Homo sapiens: one gene and its partners. The protein of the gene in region 3 interacts with the protein of the main gene of each other region in a biochemical or structural test. Each region holds a gene or a part of one and is shown on either strand. Other genes may lie near its edges.

The links. Proteins that work in one complex are often made in the same cells at the same time.
Region 1: the proteins of PIP5K1C (region 3) and TLN2 form a complex in vitro, tested with the Homo sapiens proteins (one study listed by BioGRID).
Region 2: the proteins of PIP5K1C (region 3) and LAPTM4B form a complex in vitro, tested with the Homo sapiens proteins (one study listed by BioGRID).

Annotation. Positions count from the first base shown.
Region 1 is NC_000015.10:62,841,550-62,845,131, forward strand, and holds the end of TLN2 (talin-2), read left to right. Parts: 3' UTR 1-3,082; downstream 3,083-3,582. UniProt on the Homo sapiens protein: As a major component of focal adhesion plaques that links integrin to the actin cytoskeleton, may play an important role in cell adhesion. Recruits PIP5K1C to focal adhesion plaques and strongly activates its kinase activity.
Region 2 is NC_000008.11:97,848,788-97,853,513, forward strand, and holds the end of LAPTM4B (lysosomal-associated transmembrane protein 4B), read left to right. Parts: intron 1-2,609; coding exon 2,610-2,687; 3' UTR 2,688-4,226; downstream 4,227-4,726. UniProt on the Homo sapiens protein: Required for optimal lysosomal function. Blocks EGF-stimulated EGFR intraluminal sorting and degradation.
Region 3 is NC_000019.10:3,697,322-3,704,489, forward strand, and holds the start of PIP5K1C (phosphatidylinositol 4-phosphate 5-kinase type-1 gamma), read right to left. Parts: upstream 3,148-7,168; 5' UTR 3,070-3,147; coding exon 2,976-3,069; intron 1-2,975. UniProt on the Homo sapiens protein: Catalyzes the phosphorylation of phosphatidylinositol 4-phosphate (PtdIns(4)P/PI4P) to form phosphatidylinositol 4,5-bisphosphate (PtdIns(4,5)P2/PIP2), a lipid second messenger that regulates several cellular processes such as signal transduction, vesicle trafficking, actin cytoskeleton dynamics, cell adhesion, and cell motility.

The DNA.
Region 1 (3,582 bases), on a different chromosome or scaffold from region 3:
CTGCTTACAAACCTGTCCCCTGTCCTCCAACCCAAAACGCCTTTTTTTCTGTCTTAATATCCAGAAAATCTAAATGCATCCTAAAATCAATGTGAACCTTTAACAAGATAGTTTTACTTATTATCACATAAGACATAAGATGTTTTCATTTTCTGGATGTCACACTTCCAGAATTTCATATTTTTCCCCTCTTTTCTTTCCCCTTTTCAGAGCCCTCCCATAGGAAGGGAAGGGCTTGAATTTACCCTTAATCTGCACCTTTAGCCAAGGCAGTGCATGGAAGATGAATGGCTCGTGGGACAGAATCTAATGCCAGGGAGCAGGAGTGTTTGAAAGAATTCATAGTGGGGAAGGTAAAAGTTAATGGAAGTACATGATTTTCAAAACTGGTAACAGTTAAAGGCACTCACCCTCCGCCTCTCTCTCTCTCTCTCTCTCTGGTGTGCTATCATGTCTTGGACTCCATCCACACTATAGTTTCAAAGTTCCACTGACGGGGGAAAGTTGGTGCTTTGGTCCTCCGAAGATGTCACCTTTCGACCTTGCCCGATCTTGTTTCACCAGACTCTAGCCCATGTCATGGTTTTAAAATACATAAACTTCTGACAGCTTCCCATATTTATAAGTTACTTATAAGTGCTGCACGTATTAGAATTTTTTTTTTTCAGACCAGTAAAGTTAGAGAAAAGACGCTGTAAAGGAAAAGCAAGTGAGAGTATGTGTAGGACACTGACAGTGTGTGGGCACCAGTTCTGAAGAGGAGGGGAGCTGCTGGAGCCCTAGCCTGTTGGGGAAAAGCTGGCACACTCTTGGCTCGCCCTCTTTGAGTGGAGCTGATCCAACACCTCATGCCTGCCTTGGCCGGACACTGAGAGGAGGGGCACACGTGCTTCCAGAGACACTCAGGAGTCAGACCCCAATGCTCAGAGTCACAATGTGTTCATGGCCTCCTGTAACAGGACTCTGGGGATCCCCTCTGTGGCCCAGCCCACCCCACCCTCTGCTCTTCTATGCTGTGCCCAGGGCAGCTGCCCTCTTCTGCCTGTGCCCCATCCCATCCTGAAAACCCAGGACCAAGGCAGGGGCAGGCAGCCAGTTCTTCCACCTTGCCTCAGAGTCATTTAAAACCTTTACTGCATTTGATACCAGAAAAGCCTCCAGAGACAAACCAAATGCAAAGGCCTTTCCTTTATAACTCTAAAGAACAGGCATCGAAAGTTTATTTTTGTAGGAGCTATATAAATACTCACCTTTCTGGAGTCGTCCAGTGCTGGGAGCTTTGGGGAGTTTGGTTCTCAGTTATCACCTGGTATGGTCCCAGTTTCTCATCTGTCCTTTCCTCATCCACCCTGCACATGTGTATGTGAACGGCTTCGTGGCCGGTGTGGTGGTTTCTCATTTCATAAGATAGTTGAAGGGCCATGCCTTGTCTGGATGTTATTTAATAGGCACTACTGCGGTGTCCTCAGATGGTACTGAGGGGGCCTTCTGGTCCTTCAAAGGAAAATAACACAGGCATGAGTTCATTTGGGAGTGTGAACTTTCAGAACACCTAATAAGAGAGTGGTGTCAGAGTAAAAACGGCCCCAGGTCTGGAGCATAGAAGTGTATCTCTGTGAAGAGAGAGCCGGTGTGTTGACATGTGGTTCTTCTCACACCCCTCTACTCCTCGAGGGCTTTGAATCCTTGGGCTGATTTTTGTGCCAGAAATTGCTGTTCCCGATGGCCAAAAGGGGAACCTGAACTGGATTTCAGAACTGCCCAGTGATTTGAAAATTTAGATTTTACTTGGGCCTTTCAGGAGTCTTTAGATAGGGATGCTGAGGTCATATTTAGTTCAATGAACAGCCCTTGTTTAAGTTTTGCCAGTGTCCAGCCAGCTGTGGCCCTGGCCATCTGTGCAGGCAGGTTCCTCAATTCCTGGTTGGCCCTGCAGTCGGTCAACACAGTCCCTCCAGGTCGGCTGCAGAGGCAGCTGCCCAGCCTGCAGTCTATGCACGGGCCTTAAGAAATGAGCTGCCTGTAGCCTCACGGCATATGCTTTTATCAGGGAAAACCCTTCGAGCTTCTTCTGATTCTCACCTGCTTGCTTTCTGGCTGTCTTAGTCAGTGTGTTTACAGGCAACTAAAGCCTGTTCCTAATTTATCAAAAAATTATAACCAAAATTCACCATAGCCTAAGAGAGTAAACCCCACCTCCAAAGTGATGCCAAGGCCAAAACCTCATCAAGGAACCAGACACAGGTCAAAAGTGGTGAGCAAGCCATGGTCTCTGCTCCTGGGGAACTCACACGCTGACCCCCGAGGAGCCTTGGTTTCCTCCCTGGCAGATAGTCCCCAGAATCTTCTCTCCCAGCTTTGAGGTTCTGGGCTCTGGAAAGGCCTCTGGGATGCTGGCCTTAAGATCTCAGCACAGACTATCAGCATGTTCCATTCTCAGATTCCTGGAGGAAAGGTACCCTCTGTTGACCAAGGGGCTGGCTGCTTCTGAGACTTACCAACCCAAGAAATTTGGAGACATTCCCCTCAGGCTAAAAGGCAGCGGTCCCCAGAGTTCAGAAAGCAAAAGATCTTGACAACTGTGCCAGTAGTGGCTCTGGTCCTATCTCTCCACAGTGCTGGCCTCTGCTGGGGAAGGCATCTTTCCCAAAGGTATCCCCAAGTACCATGTTGAAAATGTCCTCAGTCTGTTGCTCCATCTTTCTGAGCCTCTGCTTGGTATGTCATGTTTATGGTCACTACGGATGAGTGTGTGCAGAGTTTGGGTTGATTCTTTTAAATGCTACAAACAAGAGCTATTTCTTTTCAATAAAAAAGGTTTGGATTCGGCCTCTTCCTCTGAGCCCACCTCCCAGCCCTCCAGGGAGCATCAGTGTACCTGAGTCACTTTGTCTGCATCTCTTCATCCCACAAAACACGAGGCTGGGTCTCATTCAGCGGCCTCTCACCAACCTTCAAGATCCAGAAGAAAACAGGAACGTTCAGCTCTGCCCTGTGTCGTATCTAATCACATACATTAATTTATCTAACCACATAAGTTATTTTTTTTTATTTGCCAGAAATAAACCTTTAAAGGAACAAACCTGTGTGGAGGACTCATGGGAATGGGAGGAAGATGGAAAAGAAGGGGGAAGAGACTGTCTTTATCATGAGAGTAAAATTCCACCTTGAGGACTAGCTCCATAGTTACCAGAGGTATGTCAGGAGAGAGCACGTGTGTGTGAGTGAGTGACAGACGCAGAGCCACAGGGTGCCACAGAATTTCATGTAGCTTTGCTGACAAGAGTTAACTTGGAGAAACTCCAGGAGCAGGCGTCCTGGACAAGTAGCTAGGGGGCTTTTTGGCTTTACATACCGCCTCTGTCAGAAGACCGCACAGCTGAATACAGAAGTGCATATGGGATCATCTCCAATCTTGACCCAGGTCCTGGCACAGGAAGGTTAGGTTCACTTCTGACAGCTGAGGCCACAACTGCAACCCCCGGAGACTGCCAGGCCCTCCTTCCTGTTTGGACTGGGAATTGCTGGGGGCCAGAAGTCCTTGTTTGTGGCGGGGCAGCCAGACTTAGAAAAGTGTGAGGC
Region 2 (4,726 bases), on a different chromosome or scaffold from region 3:
CTGGTGCGGTCACAGCTGTTTCCACTTGTTATAAGTTGCTGTATCTAATGCACACACACGTATGTGCGCTGGGGGCTCAGTCCTAAAGTCAAATATGCACACGCAGAGAAGACAGCTGTTGCTTTGTTTTAGAGAATACTTTTTTCTTCCCGCAGCTCAAGCTGACACTTTTGGAATTGCTAGTGGAGATGCTGTTGTTAGATACTGGCTAGAACTTGTCAAGGTCGACCATGAGGCTCTCTTCATGTGCTGACCTGTGCCTATCTTTCCAACTTCATCTCTGCAACATTCTCCCTTCAGTGTTCACTGTAGCAAACACCTTGCAGTTCCCAGAAAGTGCCCTGTGTCCTGCTTTCCTCTTAACTCCCTACTGGAATGTCATCCTCTTTACTGCACACCTGGTCATCCTACTGAGAGGCCTTCCTTGACTCCCTAGCCTAAATTGGTTGTCCTTGTCTGTTCTTTCCTAACTTGTCTGCATCCACACATTGCTCATGTTGAGTTTTACCTGTGTCTGCCTTCTGCTAGATTGCAGGCCCCTGAACAGACAGTGACATGTTTTCAGGTTCAAGTCGCTGTGACTGAGTTCCCTGGACACCTAGGTGCTCAGTGGGTGCTGGTTTGTTGGACTTAGTTTCCTGCTGTGCTTCCTTACCTCAGGCATGTGTTCTGTACTGAGTGTATCTTGCCTACTCCATTCCTTTTCCACGTGGGCAACGCTGAACATTTGCCCCAGACTCTGTATCTTGGTTAATACCTGACATATAAAGTATTTAGCACATAGGCAAAGATCACTACCTCTTTCAGGAACAAAGGCCGGCTGGCGGGTGCGACTCTGGCGCATTGCCTTTGCCTGTGTGTTGCTGGCCAGTTATCGGCTTCTTGCATCACAGCTCCAGAGTCCCATTTAGCTTGACATGGGCTGGGCCTTGCAGATACTCCTCCTTCACCTCCTGACCCTGTTCAGCCAGGCCAGTAGGGGGCACTGGAGGAGGAAAGCCGCCACCCCCCCTCCTCCACCCCCCTGCCCGCCTGCCCGCCCCCGGTTCCTGTGTGTTTCTGCAGTGTTCAGATCTTGCTGGCAGTGCTCCCCAGGGCCCAGTGCGAGCGGAGACAGCGGTGGCAGCGCCTCTCAGGCGGTTTCCAGAGCGGGCCGTGGCTCCCGGGAACGGCTTCCCGCAGGTGATTCTGTGCACACTGGCCTCTACCTGGTTCAGCGGGAAGCCTCTCCACTGTCCAATGGGCTTCAGCCACACCCTCCCTAGCCGTGTCTCAGCCCAGCCTTGGGGACCTCTGTTCTAGCTTGTTCCGTCCCTGAGTGCCGTACTTCAATCTTCTTATCCATTAGTGCTCTTTCCCCGCCATGAGTCAGTTCCCGGTTCCTCAGTCTCCTGTTAATAATTCTTCATGAAACTATATTCACATCACTGTGTGGCTTCTGTGTTCTGACTGGACCCTAGCCAGTACAGGTGCCCTCTGCCTAGGCAGCTGAAGGAACCATACAGGCTTTTCGGGGGCCGGCCTAAGTGGCACCTCCGTCACTCCGCAAACATCTGAGTTCCTGCTGTCGGATAGGCACTGGCCCACCCTCGAGGAAGTGAGACCTGGCTTCAGCCCCACAGGAGCTCCAAGACTGGGAGGAGAGAAGTAATGAAGTGTGTAGAGCTGGAGAGGAGGGGTGTGTGTGTGTGTGTGTGTGTGTTTGGGAGAGTGCAATGTGACAAAAACTTAACAAAATTTTAGTGTGGTTCTAGTAGGAGCTAAAGGGACAGATAAATGAAAATTAACAAAATTGATGAATACCACTTTAAGCATAAGTGATATCCCTGATAGAAAATCTAACCAAGTGTGGTTTTGTTTGTGAATAGTCTTTCCCTTTCCACAAATCACTTGAGGTGGGTGAGGTTTTGTTTTGTCTTCTCATCTCTGAACTCCTAAAGGGCAGGGACTGTCTTTTGTCTCAATTATCTTATACTCACAATGACTATTACATACTAGATGCATAATAAATGTTAGTTTACTGAATGAAGGGTGATATAACTATTCTGTATTCCATTTTCTACTCCAAGAAAGCCGAAATCAGCCAGTGTATAGACCGCCAACTCTGAGGTATCCTTATTTCATAGACATGGAAACTGATGTTAAGGAACTTACCCAAGGCTACGCTGATAAAATGTGACTGACCCAGGCTTTGAATCCAGGCTGATACCAAAAGCTTGGCGTTTTCACTGCACTTTGCAGTTCTCACCATGAGTGGTTACTGTAGTCAATCAAGTGCCTGCCCTATTTGTGTGTGCACATGGACACACTCACCTAGGGGTCTTTTTTCCTCTTCAGAGCCATCACCATTTCTTTTAGAGTCACCGACCTCTGGCCATCCAGCTACACATGGACAGGGTTAGAAAAACTCAAGGCTTGAGAGTCGCTCTCCATTTGCTCCTTTAAGGATTCAAAAAGTCTTTTAATGAAGTGTATCCACTTGCTAGAAAATTGAACTTGGTACAAGTTGTGGAACATGTTTAGTTGCATAAAAGTTCAGTAAAAGCTAAACCTCGGGGAACGTGTGTGCTCTTCAAACATTAACTCTTGCCGTCCCTCTTTCTTCTCAGGTGCTGCTACCCCCGTATGATGATGCCACTGTGAATGGTGCTGCCAAGGAGCCACCGCCACCTTACGTGTCTGCCTAAGCCTTCAAGTGGGCGGAGCTGAGGGCAGCAGCTTGACTTTGCAGACATCTGAGCAATAGTTCTGTTATTTCACTTTTGCCATGAGCCTCTCTGAGCTTGTTTGTTGCTGAAATGCTACTTTTTAAAATTTAGATGTTAGATTGAAAACTGTAGTTTTCAACATATGCTTTGCTGGAACACTGTGATAGATTAACTGTAGAATTCTTCCTGTACGATTGGGGATATAATGGGCTTCACTAACCTTCCCTAGGCATTGAAACTTCCCCCAAATCTGATGGACCTAGAAGTCTGCTTTTGTACCTGCTGGGCCCCAAAGTTGGGCATTTTTCTCTCTGTTCCCTCTCTTTTGAAAATGTAAAATAAAACCAAAAATAGACAACTTTTTCTTCAGCCATTCCAGCATAGAGAACAAAACCTTATGGAAACAGGAATGTCAATTGTGTAATCATTGTTCTAATTAGGTAAATAGAAGTCCTTATGTATGTGTTACAAGAATTTCCCCCACAACATCCTTTATGACTGAAGTTCAATGACAGTTTGTGTTTGGTGGTAAAGGATTTTCTCCATGGCCTGAATTAAGACCATTAGAAAGCACCAGGCCGTGGGAGCAGTGACCATCTGCTGACTGTTCTTGTGGATCTTGTGTCCAGGGACATGGGGTGACATGCCTCGTATGTGTTAGAGGGTGGAATGGATGTGTTTGGCGCTGCATGGGATCTGGTGCCCCTCTTCTCCTGGATTCACATCCCCACCCAGGGCCCGCTTTTACTAAGTGTTCTGCCCTAGATTGGTTCAAGGAGGTCATCCAACTGACTTTATCAAGTGGAATTGGGATATATTTGATATACTTCTGCCTAACAACATGGAAAAGGGTTTTCTTTTCCCTGCAAGCTACATCCTACTGCTTTGAACTTCCAAGTATGTCTAGTCACCTTTTAAAATGTAAACATTTTCAGAAAAATGAGGATTGCCTTCCTTGTATGCGCTTTTTACCTTGACTACCTGAATTGCAAGGGATTTTTATATATTCATATGTTACAAAGTCAGCAACTCTCCTGTTGGTTCATTATTGAATGTGCTGTAAATTAAGTTGTTTGCAATTAAAACAAGGTTTGCCCACATCCAAGATGACCTTGTGATTTTGTGCTGATTGTGTCTGAGGACCTTTCCCTCCACATATGGTCTGGCAGATGCACCCAGTTCAGCCTAAGGAGTAGGCTTTTTTTTGGGGGGGGGAGGTCGGGTGGGGGGGATTTTTAATCTTTTAATTTTCAAGATGGTTAAAATATTGAAATGTTTAAGTGGATAACTATATTATTCATAAAATGACTGAGTGAAAACTAATACACTATGAGATGAAAAGTACTTGTCAGGGATTTTCAAGCTTTTGCTCAAGTAATTACTATGAAATAACAATTTCTAGAAATGAAGAACAATCCGTGGAGAATAAATTACCATTGGTGTGGGGGAAAAAAGCCAAACAGAAGTAGAAAAAGGTGTAGCCGGCATACAAATGTTATCTACAGTGTATTTTTAGATTTTTTATACTTGACCAGGTCTCTTATGTCCTTTTTCTGGAAAACTGTTTTTAACTACTAAAGTGATTATAAATGAAAAAGTGGCCAGTAAAGTGACTACTATCTTCAGGGCTTTAAACCAGTTGGGATAATGTGGTAAGAGAAAAAGTTGAAGGTGTAATGCTACCCGCATACCCATTATTACTGTGACTATGGCTTCACTAAGTCTTTCAGAAATAAGAAGGCAAACCATGAAAAGAAAAGAGGAGCTGTACTGCTAGCTAAATTAAGGTAGTCTGGTTTGGCTGGACTACCTTCTGGTAGAGCAAAACCGCATCTGATCCCACCCAAGAAAGATGGAAACTGGCTCCATAAGCCATCTGAGTAAAAGCTAATATGGGAATATAAGTTTTTGTCATCAGCATGACCAGTGGTGGGGCAACGAAGGGGATTAGTCCTGCCAGAGTTACATATAATGCTGGCTTTGGGCTGTCAGTTAGGTAAGTGATGGTGCTTGGTGGC
Region 3 (7,168 bases):
GGAGGAGGACCGAGCTGGACCGGGGAGGACCGAGCCAGACAGAGGAGGACTGAGCCAGACGGAGGAGGACTGAGCTGGACCGGGGAGTACTCAGCCAGACGGAGGAGGACCGAGCTGTACGGAGGAGGACCGAGCTGGACCGAGGAGGACCGAGCTGGACCGGGGAGGACCGAGCTGGACCAGGGAGGACCAAGCTGGACCCGGGAGGACCAAGCTGGACCCGGGAGAGGCAGAGGACAGGGAAGGAGTCAGTGGGTTCTGGGCCAGTTCTGAAGGTGAAGCTGCCATCATTTGCTGCCAGATCAGCCGTGGAAGTGGGGCAGGGGCAGGGATGCAGCTGACCTTTCCAGGGCATCACAGAGACAGATCAGCCGTGGGAGTGGGGCAGGGGCAGGGATGGAGCTGACCGTTCTGGGGCATCACAGAGACAGGACAGCCTGGGAGAGGCTCAGACACGCCCAGGCCACAGCTCAGACCAAACTCCACCACAGGCCATCGGCCCACACAGTGGGCACAGCCGCATCCCAAGCCCCGGCCTTCCCGAGACCGCCCCCACGTGCCCCACGGCCACGGCCCATGGAGACGCCATTCAGGCCACGCCTCGGGAGCCAGGAGCCCAGGCAATTAGAGGAACCAAATTCTAAACACCAACGAGACATTGCTTTGCCTCCCATCGGATCAGCCGAAATCGCCAAGGACGATGACACTGGGAGCTGGCAGTGCCGTGGGAAACGGGCAGCCTCCCTCGGCCCCTGTCGGACAAGGCTCCCGCTGTAGCTGAGCTTTCTGGAAGGTGTCGCCATCGCTTCTAACAGTGAGCGGTGACTCCAGAAACCACGGGCATGGGCCTCAGCAGGGGCCTGGAGGCACCGATGGTGGAGAGGCCGGAAAGGGGTGGCCAACCGGCACGACAATCACCAAGCACGAGCGCCAACTCATCCCAGGCTCAGCCCCTAGCACACACGGTCATCACCCCACTTCACAGACGGGACGCTGAAGCCCGGGGAAGTGACGGCCACACAGCACCTGAAGCGCGGAGCTGGGAGGGGGACATCGGCGGGACCAACTCTGGGGCTCCCCCTTAACCACTGCCTGGCGCTCGCCCTCTCTACAAACCGATACCAACATAGGGTGGGGAGACTCCAGATGACCAGAGATAAAAAGCAAGCAGTTCACAGAGTCATAAACGTGTGGCATTTCTCACCAGGGCCGTCCTGCCCCCAGGGGACACTGAACGGTGTCTGGGTCACTTGTGGCTGTCACAACTGGCAGGTGCTCCTGGCATGGAGTGGGCAGAAGCCAGGGGCGTTGCTCAGCACCCCTAATTTCCTGACTCAAAATACCTCTGCCAAGGCACAGAAGCCCCAGTGAGGCATGAAACCATCTCGGTGAAGAACAAGCAGGCCCCTTTATGTGCTCACGTCTCTGTGGCCCAGCCAGGCACAACCTAAACTCACCAGCGCTAACATCAGGAGGGATGGCGTTGGAGGAGTGAGGCAACTCTGAATTTTAAACATTCAGAAGCAGTATATGGCCAGCTGGGGTCAGATTTCTGTGGATTTCAGGGATGGGCAGAGATGCCAGACCCTGACCTTCCAGCCCTCCCCGGCCCCCCACCCCCACCCCCCCACTCCCCCGCTCTCCCACCCCACCACCATGCTCAGTCTGGAGCTGGCAACTTTATCTGTCCCCGGTGCTCCCAGAGCCCCTGATAAGATGAATGGTCGCGGTGTGGTTTTCTTTTGGTCAGCGAGTCCTGGGCTACTTTGTCTCTGACCAGCTGGGGTCAGAGGGCTGACAGCGGAAGTTGGGGGGCCCAAGAAAGGAACCCGGGCTGGGGCCTGGTGCCCTGCCTGGGTTCCTCCACCATGTCTCTTGCTGGCCAGGCCAGGACACCGGCTGCCCGCAAAGAAAGGGGCGAGGCCACTGGCTCTGGGGAAGGAACCGGGTCACCTACCAAGCGGTTCCAGATGGCCGCCGGGAGGGAAGCCACGAGTGTCTTTCAAGGCGGGGGGTGGGGGGGGGACTTGATGACTTCCACACTCTCTCTCTCTCCAGACATCTCCCCAACTCCCAGGCAGCACGCATCGCCCGCCCGCCCGCTTGCCCGCCTGCCAACCAAGGAAGCTTCGGGAGGCCTGGGGGGAGAAGGAGGACGGATGCCCGTGTGGGTGTCTACAGAGACGCTGCTGCTGGCTGCCTGGGAGGAGCAGAGGATTTTGTGAATCCGGAAACTTCCGATTTGGGAGCTTGTGACCTCGACTGAGAAGGAACTGTTCCCTTCCTCTGGGCTCTGCACACCGTCCCCACAGAAGGGAAGGCCCAGCTGCCGCCACCTACCCGGCTGGAGGTCCAGGAAGCAGCTAAAGGGGGCATGAGACAGCCGTGCCCCCCGCCCAGCCCGCAGCCCCACCAGTGTGTCCTGGGGGAAGGCTCGGGGAGAGGAAAAGGGGGCGACAGGGCACCCTGTGTGCACAGCCGGGGCGGTGGAGGCATCTTGAGATGTAACCCTTTTCCTCCCCTCATTTTAGCAGGGAGGTAAACTGAGGCCCAGGAAGGTGAGGAAAGGTCGCGCACCCGGACTCAGGTCTGGGGACTTACAGAAAGGGAGGTGACATCAGGAGGTGGGCACGCACGGCCTCAGAGACCCCCGCCTCCACCCAAGCAGCCGCCACTCACACGACGGGCAGCCCCTGGGAGCGGGTCAGGCAGAACGGGGATCCCCAGCGGCGCCCACGCCGAGTCGCCCCCGGCCCGGGAGCGGTGGGAGGTAGCCCCTCGCAGGCCTCCCGCTTCCCGGCGCGGCTTCAGCCCCGTCCTCCCCGCGGCTCCAGGGGACTGCCCCGCCCCAGGCTCCTGGAACCGGCGGCGCCCCCGCAGCGACCGTGCAGCCCCCGCCCCGGCCCCGCAGCCCCGCGACTCTCGGCGCTCGGACGAGCCCAGCGGGCCGCAGCCCCGGGAGGCCGGGCCGTTACCTGCCGCCGCCCCGCTCTCTGCCGCCCACGCCGCCTCCGAGGGCACGGCCCCCGCCTCAGCGCTCTCCGCCTCGTCCGGTACCTCCAGCTCCATGGCCGCGCGCGGACGGCGGCGGGGGCGCCCGAGGGGGACCCGAGCTGCGACCGCCGCCGCCGAACAACAAGCGCCGCCGGCCAAGGGAGGGCGCGCCGGGCCGGCGCGGGGCGGACGGGGCGGGGCCTGCGTGCGTGCGACGCCGCGGACGGCGCGCGGCCAATCGGGGCTCGGGGGCGGGGCCTGCTTGCGACCCGCAGCCAGGAGCGCCTCGAGTGCCCCCTCGCGCCCAGGGGTGGGAGTACAGAGCCAGGCTCGCCATTCCATCGTATTAGGTCAGTAAGATTGACAGGCACGATACGTATCAATAACATTGCTGTGCACAACACATACCAATAACATGGATCTACACAACACATGACAATAATATGGATCTATACAGCACGTGCCAATAATATGGATGTACACAGCACATGCCAATAACATGGATCTAAACAGCACATGCCAATAACAGGGACCTGCACAGCGCATGACAATAACATGGATCTGGCCGGGCGCGGTGACTCACGCCTATATTCCCGGCACTTTGGGAGGCCGAAGAGGGCGGATCACCTGAGGTCAGGAGTTCAAGACCATCCTGACCAACATGGTGAAATCCTGTCTCTACTAAAAATACAAAAAATAGCTGGGCGTGGTGGCACATGCCTGTAATCGCGGCTACTCGGGAGGCTGAGGCAGGAGAATCGCTGGAACCCAGGAGGGAGAGGTTGCAGTGAGCTGAGATCGCACCATTGCCCTCCAGCCTGGGCCACAGAGTGAGACTCTGTCCCAAAAAAAACCACACATGGACCTACACAGCACATGCCAATAACATGGAGTTACCCAATGCATGCCAATAACATGGATATACACAATACATGCCAATAACACGGATATGCACAATACATGCCAATAACATGGATATACACAATACATGCCAATAACATGAATCTATACTATATCATTGACATGGATCTACATAAAACATACAAATAGCATTGCTATATGCAATACATGCCAATCACATTGCTATACACAATGAATACCAATAACATTGATCTACACAATACATGTAACTAACATTGATACACACACTACATGTCAATAACATTGATATACACACTACATGCCAATAACATGGATATACACACTACATGCCAATAACATTGATATACACACTACATGCCAATAACATTAATGTACACACTACATGTCAATAACATTGATATACACACTACATGTCAATAACATTGATATGCACAAAATATACCAATAACAGTGATATACACAGTACATGTAAATAATATTGATCTACACAGGGCCGGGCGCGGTGGCTCATGCCTGTAATCCCAAGACTTTGGGAGGCCGAGGCGGGCGGATCACGAGGTCAGGAGATTGAGACCATCCTGGTTAACATGGTGAAACCCCGTCTCTACTAAAAATACAAAAAATTAGCCAGGCGTGGTGGCGGGCGCCTGTAGTCCCAGCTACTTGGGAGGCTAAGGCAGGAGAATAGGGTGAACCTGGGAGGCAGAGCTTGCAGTGAGCTGAGATCGTGTCACTGCACTCCAGCCTGGGCAACAGAGCGAGACTCCATATCAAAAAAAAATATATATATATATAGATCTACACAATACATGTTATTAACATTGATCTACGCAATACATATCAATAACATTTGCAATTAACTACCTGTTTATTATCATATTGCAAATAATATTTATATTCCATCGTTTGTATTACGTAAGTATAGATATGTTATTGTTTTCTTTATATTATTTTATCAATAATAATACAGTTTGCTATTATAAGAAACATATAATTATAGAAATACATAATAAATTATATATATTTATGCAAATGTAAGTAGCAATATTTATATCCTTCTTTTTTTTTTTTGAGATGGAGTCTTGCTGTTGTTGCCCAGGCTGGAGTGCAGGGGGGCGATCTGAGCTCACTGCAACCTCTGCCTCCAGGGTTCAAGTGATTCTCCTGCCTCACCCTCCCAAGTAACTAGGACTACAGGTACGTGCCACCACGCCCGGCTAATTTTTGTATTTTTAGTAGAGATGAGGTTTCGCCATGTTGGCCAGGCTGGTCTTGAACGCCTGACCTCGTGATCTTCCCGCCTCAGCTTCCCAAAGTGCTGGGATTACAGGTGTGAGCCACTGCGCCCGGCCATATTTATGTTCTTTATATAAGCACATAATAAGGCTTATGTTGTTTATGTTAATTTAAGTAATAACGTTTATATTATTTACATAAATGTAAATCATAATGATTATATTACCTATGCACATAAATAATGTTTGGGGTGGGCACAGAGGCTCCCGCCTGTAATTCCAGCACTTTGGGAGGCCAAGGCAGGAGGATTACTTGAGCTCAGGAGTTCTAGACCAGCCTGGGTAACATAGTGAGCCCTCTCATCTCTACAAAAAAAATTTTTTTAATTAGCTAGGTGTAGTGAGACCCCTCATCTTTACAAAAAAAATTGTTTTTTAATTAGCCAGCTACTTAGTAGGCTAAGGTGGGAGGACTGCTTGAGCCCGGGAACTCAAGGCTGCAGTGAGCTATGATCGCACCACTGCACTCTGGCCTGGGCAACAGAGAAAGACCCCGTCTGTCCCCGCAAAAAAAAAAAACAAACAAAAAAAACAAAAAGACAAATTCTGTGTGGTTCCACTCCTAGGAGGTCCCTAGAGTTGTCACATTCACAGAGACAGAAAGTAGGATGGGGGGTGCCAGGGGCTTGGGGGGAGACGAGGAGTGAGTGTTTCACAGGGGCAGACTTCCAGTCTCAGAAGATGAGAACATTCTGGAGATGATGGCGGTGATGTTTGCACAGCCATGGGAATGTGCTTAAGGCCACGGAGCTGTGCTCTTAGACATGGTGAAAATGGGCCGGGCGCGGGGGCTCACACCTGCAATCCCAGCACTTTGGGAGGCCGAGGTGGGCGGATTACCTGAGGTCGGGAGTTCAAGACCAGCCTGACTAACATGGAGAAACCCCGTCTCTACTAAAAATACAAAATTAGCCAGGCGTGGTGGCGCGTGCCTGTAATCCCAGCTACTCGGGAGGCTGAGGCAGGAGAATCACTTGAACCCGAAAGGCAGAGGTTGCAGTGAGCCAACATGGCACCACTGCACTCCAGCCTGGGCGACAGAGCAAGACTCTGTCTCCAAAAAAAAAAAAAAAAAAAAAAGAAGAAGAAGAAGAAGAAAGAAATGGTGAAAATGGGCCGGGTGCGGTGGCTCACGCCTGTCATCCCAGCACTTTGGGAGGCCGAGGCTGGCAGATCACCTAAGGTCAGGAGTTCAAGACCAGCCTGGTCAATGTGGTGAAACCCTGTCTCTACTAAAAATACCAAAAAATTAGCTGGGCATAGTGGCACAGGCCTATAATCCCAGCTACTCGGGAGGCTGAGGCAGGAGAATCACTTGAACCTGAGAGGCAGAGGTTGCAGTGAGCCAACATGGCACCACTGCACTCCAGCCTGGGCAACAGAGCAAGACTCGAAAAAAAAGAAATGGTGAAAATTGTGAATTGTATGTTGTGCGTATTTTACTACCATTTTTTGTTTTTTCTTTTTTGAGATGAGTCTTGCTCTGTTACCCAGGCTGGAGTGCAGTGGCGTGATCTCGGCTTACTGCAGCCTCTGCCTCCCAGGTTCAAGCGATCCTCCCACCTCAGCCTCCCAAGTAGCTGAGACCACAGGTGTGTGCTACCATACCTGGCTAATTTTTGTAATTTCAGTAGAAATGGGATTTCACTGTGTTGGCCAGGCTGGTGTCAGGTGATCTGCCCACCTCGGCCTCCCAAAGTGTGAGGATTACAGGCGTCAGCCACTGCAGGCGGCCTTGACCATTTTAAGGCTCCAGGAAGAGTTCTTTGGACGCAGGTCATGGACAGAGCTCCTGATTCACCCAGAATCTGTTTTGAAAAAAGATTTAGACCACTGGCTCTCAAGGTGTGGTCCCTGGGCCAGCCACATCAGCCTCACCCTGGGAGCTTGTTAGAAATGCAGGTTCCAAAGCCAGGTGCAGTGGTTCATGCCTGTAATCCCAGTGCTTTGGGATTGAGGCTGAGGCAGGAGAATCACTTTAGCCCAGGAGTTCAAGA